Homo sapiens: one gene and its partner. The protein of the gene in region 2 binds, or shares a complex with, the protein of the main gene of each other region. Each region holds a gene or a part of one and is shown on either strand. Other genes may lie near its edges. The genes, in order: MYO7B and CDHR2.

Region 1 (3,910 bases), on a different chromosome or scaffold from region 2:
CAGCTGGCAGTGAAGGAACACACTACACACTGCTGGAAAGGCAGACAACAGAGTCTACAATGACACTGGATTTGAAAACTTGACTTCATCCTGAGCTCGTCTTCTGCCGCTAGCTACTCCATTCATTCATTCAGCATGTGCCAAGTGTCCATTCTCTGCTGAGGCCTGGGCATGTGCAGGAGATGGAAAAACCCCAGAGAAACCCAGCCCAGGCTCTCGAGGAGCTCATAGTCCAGTGGCCTTGGTCAAATCCTTCCTTCTCCTCCTCCTCCTTCTCCTTCTCCTCCCCCTCCTCCTCCTCCTCTTCTTCTTCCTCCTCCTCCTATTCCTTCTTCTTATTCTTCTATAGAGATGGAGTCTCCCCATGTTGTGGGCTCAAGCAATCCTCCCACCTCGGCCTCCCAAAGTGCTGGGATTACAGGCATGAGCCACCACCATGCCCAGTCTCCTTTACCCTTCTTCATCTCTTCTGTGAAAAATGTGCTAAGATTCTGGCTCTTCCTCCCTGAACAGCTTGGTATGTGGACCAAGAATGGGCACACAAACATCATTTAAATACATGTGTTAAGTAAAATGTATGGAGGCCATTGGTTTTGTCTGAGCTCCTACACAAGGCCAACAGACCAGACCAAAATGGAGTCACTCATGCTGAAGTTCCACACCACCAGGCCCAAACGAAGGTTATCTGACCTTCCAAGAATCAGGAGAGAGACAATAGCTGGAGCCCCAGACAGGCCAGTTTCAGCGGGCATGATAAGGAAGTTCCCTCAGCTCTATCCTTTACAAGGAAAATAAATTGAAATGACTAATCCCCTTTTGTTTTCTGTTTCTCTCAGCCCCATTCTGTCTATAAAGCCAAACTCCTCTGCTCGGCTCATCAGATCATTCATTGTATTCTATAAGTGGGGTGTTGCCCAATTCTAGAATTGCAAATAAAAGCCAATTAAGATCTTTAAGATAAATTTTTTATAATTTTGTCTTTTGACATATGTAAAACAGGAAGCAATATCAACACATATAGGTCATCCCTGTGGTGCCGCCTCTCCACAGAGCCCCGTGCTAGAGCTGTGGATGCAGCAGGCCCCAAGACAGCCGCCTGGGGAGGATTCTCTTAGAGGTGGCATCTGAGGACAGACGTAGGGCCCCCAGCAGGTCCAGGGAGATGGGGTGGGCTGATGAGCTGAGTGGTTCCTAACAATGATTCACTGAGGGTGTGTGTGAATCTCTGAACTAAAATCCTAAACAAAGTGCAGGGTTCTGATAAATTAGAGCAAAATTCAAGTCCAGGGTTACAAAGTGGAGCCTGAAGGGGAGGCCTCGTCATGGAGAATTTGGGGGATCTGGGTTGGGGGCCCCACACCCACCAGCTGTCTGACCTGGGCCAGCTCTCACAATCTCTGTGTCTCAAGTTTCGTCCTCTGTGAAATGGGGATGGGACACACACCACCTGGACAGCTCAAGGGGGACAGCCCATGTGAGCCCCGGTGCGGTCCCTCTCCTCAGCCACCTCTTCCCCCACCCCCCCCCCCACCACACCCCAGACCTGTCCTGCCTCTCCCTAGGGTCCCAGCCTTCCAGAGGTGACTAAAGCCAATTGCCCAAGGTACATGGGTAAGGCGGATAAGCCTGGGCTTTGGAGTCGAATCCGGCTCTGCTTCTTCCCGTGGGCACCTTCGCTTCCATGGTCCTCAGTCTCTGTGTCCATAAAATGGAGGCAATTCCACCACTGTGTTGCGAGGACGCAGTGGGATGTCACACACGGCACAGCTGACATCTGGCAGGGGCTCATCATGGGACCCAGGCTATCCATGATGTCCCATGATTCCACAGTGAGGCCCTCTAGCTGTGAGGAGGCTTCAGGGTGGGAGCAGCCTTGGCACCTGCCGTTCCCCTCCTGCAGGGAGTTTGCCCTTCTACAGCAGAGGGCTAGACAGCTTCTCCCCCTCCTCCTCCTCCTCAGCCCCCCAGGTGCTGCCCTTCAGCCCGATGGACTGAGTCCCCTGCTGCGGTTTCTGGTTTCCAGGCTCCTGAAGGGCTTCTCCACTCTCTATCCCTCAGACCTGTTCCATCTTATTTCCAGGGGACCTGCCTCCTGCCCAGCGACCCTCTTCAGAGAGGTGACCCCCTACTCCCCGCTGGCAGACACGCCCCCGGCACGCCCTTACCTTGTCAGGATGGGGGTCTGGCTGACTCCCCTTCCCCTCCACCCTGGGCACCCTGAAAGAGCCAGGAAAGGAGGCAATGTTGGGACTCCGGGTGTGTCAGGGAGTAAGGGACAGAGGAAGAAGAGGTAGGGCTCCAAGAGGAAATGACTGGGAGCACTCTGGGCCCACGTAATTTATTACAGGACTTTGTCCCTGGGCTCCAGGCACTTCCACTCCCACACGCCTCCCTCAGCCCCAGCTGGCAGAGCCTCATGATACCTGCTCTTTAACCCAGGCCCCTTCTGCAGAGCAGCGATGCATGCTGCCCGGAGGCCACCAGGGTTTGCAGTCTGTGCACCTGCTCTGGCCACCAGCCAGATCCCATGGTGACAGTCAGCTGACCATCCGGGGGCTCAGCATCTTCCCAGGTGCTGCATGGCAGGAGCTCTGCCCCCAAGCACCCCAAGCTCTAATTGAGGGTGGTAGTATAATATAAAATACAGTATATTTGGTCCTTGTTCCCGGTTGGTGTCACAGAACTCCTAAAACCCTTAGAATTTCCAAAGTGATCGTCGGGCATGGTGGCTCACGCCTGTAATCCCAGCATTTTGGGAGGCCGAGGCAGGCGGATCACAAGGTCAGGAGATCAAGACCATCCTGGCTAACACGGTGAAACCCCATCTCTACTAAAAACACACACACAAAAAAATTAGCTGGGCGTGGTGGCGGGCGCCTGTAGTCCCAGCTGGAGGTTGAGGAAGGAGAATGGCGTGAACCGGGGAGGTGGAGCTTGCAGTGAGCCAAGATCGGGCCACTGCACTCCAGCCTGGGTGACAGAGCGAGACTCCGTCTCAAACAAACAAACAAACAAAAAATTTCCCAAGTGATCATCTCATAATGAGTCCGTTTGATAACACCTGAAGTTATGCTGAGGAGGTGACCATGTGGGGGCCCTACCTAGCCTCAGCATGGGGTCAGTCACCAGAAAGACCTAGTGAATAGAGGGTTGGAACTTTCAGCCCCGCCTACTGACCTCTGGGAAGGTAAAACTCTTGAACAAGATTTGACAAGCTTCCACACATCTGAGGTCCCTGGGGGGTGGCATGCGGGAGAGGGCATGGAAGCTCCATGACCTTCCCACACAACTCACCTGTGCGTGTTTATTCGGCTGCTCATCTGTAATCCTTTGTAAAATCTTTTCCCACGAACTGGTCAATATGAGTGCCGTCCTGAGTTCCATGAGCTATGCTAGCAAATCCAACCTCAGGTGTGGGGCATGGGAACCCCGATTTATAGCCAATTGGTCAGAAGTATAGGTGGCAACCTAGGACTTGAGACTGCATTTGAAGTGGGGCAGTTTTGTGGGACTGAGCCCTTAACCTGTGGGATCTATGACTCCAGGTTGACAGTGTCTGATTGAATTGAATTATAGGACATCCAGACGGAGTCTGCTGGAGAACTGCTTGGACACCTGGTCAAGAGAGTGTTCTGTGTTGAGTGTGAAAGGAGCATACACCTGGGACATGTCTGGGGCCATCAGGAAGCCTTAGAGACAAAGGCCATCAGACAACAAGGTTCCCAGGAGGGTACCTGGCAACAAATTGGGCAGGCTTGGGCTGGCACTTGATCAAGGGGGATTTGGGCTTAAGGCAAATACAGACTGTTTAGAAGGGAAGTGCAACCGCAGTGGGCCCTGGGTGGGGTCAGACTGGAGGGGCCAGGCAGTCCCTGGAAGTGAGCAGGAGGGCGAGGGGAGCTCATTTATG
Region 2 (3,910 bases):
AAAAAAATTAGCCAGACGTGGTGGCGTGCACCTGTAATCCTAGCTAGTCAGGAGGCTGAGGCAGGAGAATCGTTTGAACCAGGGAGGCACAGGTTGCAGTGAGCCGAGATAGCGCCTTGCACTCCAGCCTGGGCAACAGAGTGAGAATCCGTCTCAAAAAGAAAGTGCTTAGGGAAGGACCAAAAAGGACACAGAGAAGAATCAGGGAGACTCTGGCCCCCACGCCATGAGATGTGTAGTCTCCAGGAATCCTCACTGGTCCCACCTGGCCCAGGAGGTGCCAGCTCTTCAGCCTTGGCTGAGAGGAGGCTTCAGCCGCATCTCAGAGCAGTCCACGGTGCCAAGATTTTCTAGAATTTGGAACCACTGGGAGTGAGGATACCCGGACTGCCCAGGACCTCCAGGAGGGTCAGGGTGGGGAGGTGGGTCCTCCTTCAGTGTGGGGAGCCCCCGGGGTGCACTCAGCCACGATGCTACAGAGCTCCCCCAGCACCGCCACCGCTACACGGCCAGCTCGCCATGCACTTTCACTTCTGCTTTTTCATTTACTTCTCACAGCTGTTCCCAAGCAGGAATTATCCTATCCTATTATTCCAAGGAAACCGAGGCTCATAGATGCCCAGAGATGGGTGAGCCAGGGGCAGCAGGTTAGACCCAGGCTGCCTCCAAATCCAGGGGTCCCTGGGCAAGCCTTGGTCTGGGCTCCGTTGATCCAGGAGGCCGTGCCTGCACCCACAGAGCGGACTCCAGCCGAGCCTGGGTGCCCGGAGCAAGGATGTGGGACCTGAGCACGCAGCTCCCCGCCACGGGCCCTCCCAGTGCCTATGGCCCAGGCCACCTGGCCCAGCAGACACATACAGACTCAAACAGCCCTGGGTTCAGATGGCAGCATTTCACATATTTGTTGTGCAACCCCAGGCAAGCCCTCTCCCCTCTCCAGGCCTCAGTTTCCCCTGCTGAGAAGCAGAGTGAGGATAAAAATCAAGGGGTCTACACACGGGCCATGACTTGTTTCCATCTGCCGGACCTCGGTGCTCACTGGGACCCTGCCTTGTGCCTGGTGCCCAACCCAGCACAGGCCTGCCTGAGTGACGCAGCATGGCCCCGACTCTCAGCTGGGTCACCACCTCCTCTACCAGGGCAGAGAGATGTGCAAGGCCCGGACTGGGCAGAGCTGGGGCCAGCCTGGGTCAGTCCCTGCCTGACACTTCCTAGCACTGGCTGAGGTGGCACTGGGCTCGGTCATAGGCCACATGCTCACCTTTGCCTCAGGGCTTTTCAGGCCCTTTCTGGAACTCTTCTCATCCCCATTTGATAAATGAGGAAACGGAGGCCCAGAAGAGTTAAGTAGCCCACCAAGGTCAGGGTGGAGCTGGGATGTGAACCGAGCAGCTGGGGTAAGAGCCCAGGTCAGCTTCCCCGTCCTCAACCCCTGAGCATCCTATGAAGGGGTCAGGCCAGTTACCTCGTTTCCCTGGGGTGCCTGCCTCCCTTCCATCCTCTGAAGAATCATCCCTTGAGGACTTGGATGGGAAGGGGGCCATCAGCCCCCAGGGAAGGAGGTATTATTATCCCATGTTTACCAAAGAAACAGGCCTCACAGCAGGCTGGGACCTGACCCGGCTCTGCCCCATCTAGCGTGTGACTTCCCCTGCCCAGCTTCAGGGGAGACTTTTAAAGACCCCCAAGCTTGCCTTGGCTCTAGGGATCCCCCCAACCCCCACATTTCTCTGGCCCAGAGACCCCCGATGAGCTGGATAGTCCCTACCTGTGTCCCCTTCGCCACGGAGGCGGCAGGCAGGCGCCGGACAGGCGCTGGCACACAGGTGGGCACCCTCTGCGGCCTGCAGCTATGTGGCCAGCAGACTTTGGCACCATCTCCACCTCCACTGAGCAATCATTAACCCTGCCAGAGACCACACCTCCCAGGAGGGGTCGACTCCTAATGAGGCAGAGTACAGCTGGGGGCGCCGGACAGGAGGAAGGGACCAAGGCGCCAGAGCTCCTGGCGCTCCTGGGGCTGGAGGCCCACACCACAGGAGAAGGGGCCTGGCCGACCCTGAGCCCAGAGGACCTGGGAACAAGGCCCAACACTGGGGCAGGCTGGAGGCGGGGACGGTGACAGTCAGAAGGTGATGCCAGAGCCCCCGTCCCCTCCCTGCTACGAGTCTTCAGTGACAGGGGATCTGTGGACAAGTGGGGGATTGAGTCAGGAGAGGGAAGTGGTAAAACAGTGTAACAATCAAACACTGTGTGGCCAGACCAGCCCCTGTGAGGTTCTCGTGGAGGACTGGGGGCTAGCTGAGCCTGGACAACCCACTTTCGAGCCTGTTGACACTGATCTCACCCCGCATTGAGACCCTCAAAAGGCATCTGCCCGTCCCCAGGGGCTTCATCCACTCCCAAGTTGCCTTTTTTTTTTAATTATTTATTTATTTTTGAGTCAGAGTCTTGCTCTGTCACCCAGGCTGGAGTGAAGTGGCACAATCTTGGCTCACTGCAATCTCTGCTTCCTGGGTTCAAGCAATTCTCCTACCTCAGCCTCTCGAGTAACTGGGATTACAGGCGTGGGCCTCCACACCCGGCTAATTTTTTTTGTATTTTTAGTAGAAACAGGGTTTCACCATGTTGGCCAGGCTGGTCTCGAACTCCTAACCTCAGGCGATCCGCCTGCCTCGGCCTTCCAAAATGCTGGGATTACAGGGATGAGCCACGGAGCTCGGCCCCCAGGCTGGCTTTAAGCGCTGCCCGATGTGGTGGCCTCCCGAAGGGGCTCAGCCACAAGTCCTTCTTATCCTCACTTTGGCCCAGCCATCACAGTTGACACAGAAAGGGGACCCTGGGCACAACTTTCTTAAGGCACACCACTGAGTCGTCACCATTGGGTGGCCCTCTTCTTGTGGGCAGAGGACATGTCTAATTCACAATAGATATATAGTCATGCACCATATATCTGTGTTTTGGTCAACAACGAACCACACATATAATAGCGGTCCCATAAGAGTATAATATCATCTTTCATGGCACCCTTTCTGTGTTTACATGCACAAATACTTACCCCTGTGTTACAGTTGCCTGCAGCGTGCGGTACAGTCCCAGGCTGCATAGGTTAGCAGCCCAGGAGCACAGGCGGTGGTATAGAGACTGGGTGTGTAGTAGGTGGTACCGCCTAGGTTTGTGTAAGTCACTGTGTGATGTTCACACAATGACGAAATTGCCTGATGACACATTTCCCAGAAGGTGTCCCCGTTGTTAAGGGTTGTGTTGACTGTATATCAGGCAGTTGCTATAGTCAGGCATTTTAATAGTTTGCTTCCCAACTCTCCAAATGTAAAACATAGTAACAAAATTTATACGCCACCAGCATAAAAAGAAGAAACCCAGATGAAGGGAAGTCAAGTGAGAAAAATAAGGGTAATCTACGCCTGAATTGAGGCCATAAAATACTTGTCTTGAGCTGGGGGCACTGCTGTGCACCTGTAGTCCCAGCTACTTGGGAGGCTGCAGCAGTAGGATGGCTTGAGGCCAGGATTTCTGTGCTGTAGGGCACTATGCTGATGGGGTGTCCACACTAAATTCAGCACTAATATGGTGAACCCCAAGGAGCAGAGGACCACTAGGTTGCCTCAGAAAGGCTGAACCAGCCCAGGTCAGAAACAGAGCAGGTCAAACTTCAGGTGCTGATCAGTAGTGAGACTGTGCCTATGAATAGCTACTGCACTCCAGCCTAGACAACAAGAGCTTCTCTCTCAAAAAATAAACAAATTATATATATATATATATTTGCCTTCAAGTTCTGGGTAATTGTAGAGATGGGTCATGAATCAGGTTCTGAGCTTCCCCCCAGGCAAAGAAAAAAGGGAATTGAGATCCATTGAGTCCAGCATCCATCCATTTTAAAACATTTGCA

What was found.
Region 1: CDHR2 (region 2) and MYO7B share a complex: the UniProt entries of both Homo sapiens proteins name them as parts of the IMAC/intermicrovillar adhesion complex.

Annotation. Positions count from the first base shown.
Region 1 is NC_000002.12:127,534,087-127,537,996, reverse strand, and holds the start of MYO7B (unconventional myosin-VIIb), read right to left. Parts: upstream 2,315-3,910; 5' UTR 2,166-2,314; intron 1-2,165. UniProt on the Homo sapiens protein: Myosins are actin-based motor molecules with ATPase activity. Their highly divergent tails are presumed to bind to membranous compartments, which would be moved relative to actin filaments.
Region 2 is NC_000005.10:176,547,273-176,551,182, reverse strand, and holds the start of CDHR2 (cadherin-related family member 2 precursor), read right to left. Parts: upstream 1,842-3,910; 5' UTR 1,769-1,841; intron 1-1,768. UniProt on the Homo sapiens protein: Intermicrovillar adhesion molecule that forms, via its extracellular domain, calcium-dependent heterophilic complexes with CDHR5 on adjacent microvilli. Thereby, controls the packing of microvilli at the apical membrane of epithelial cells.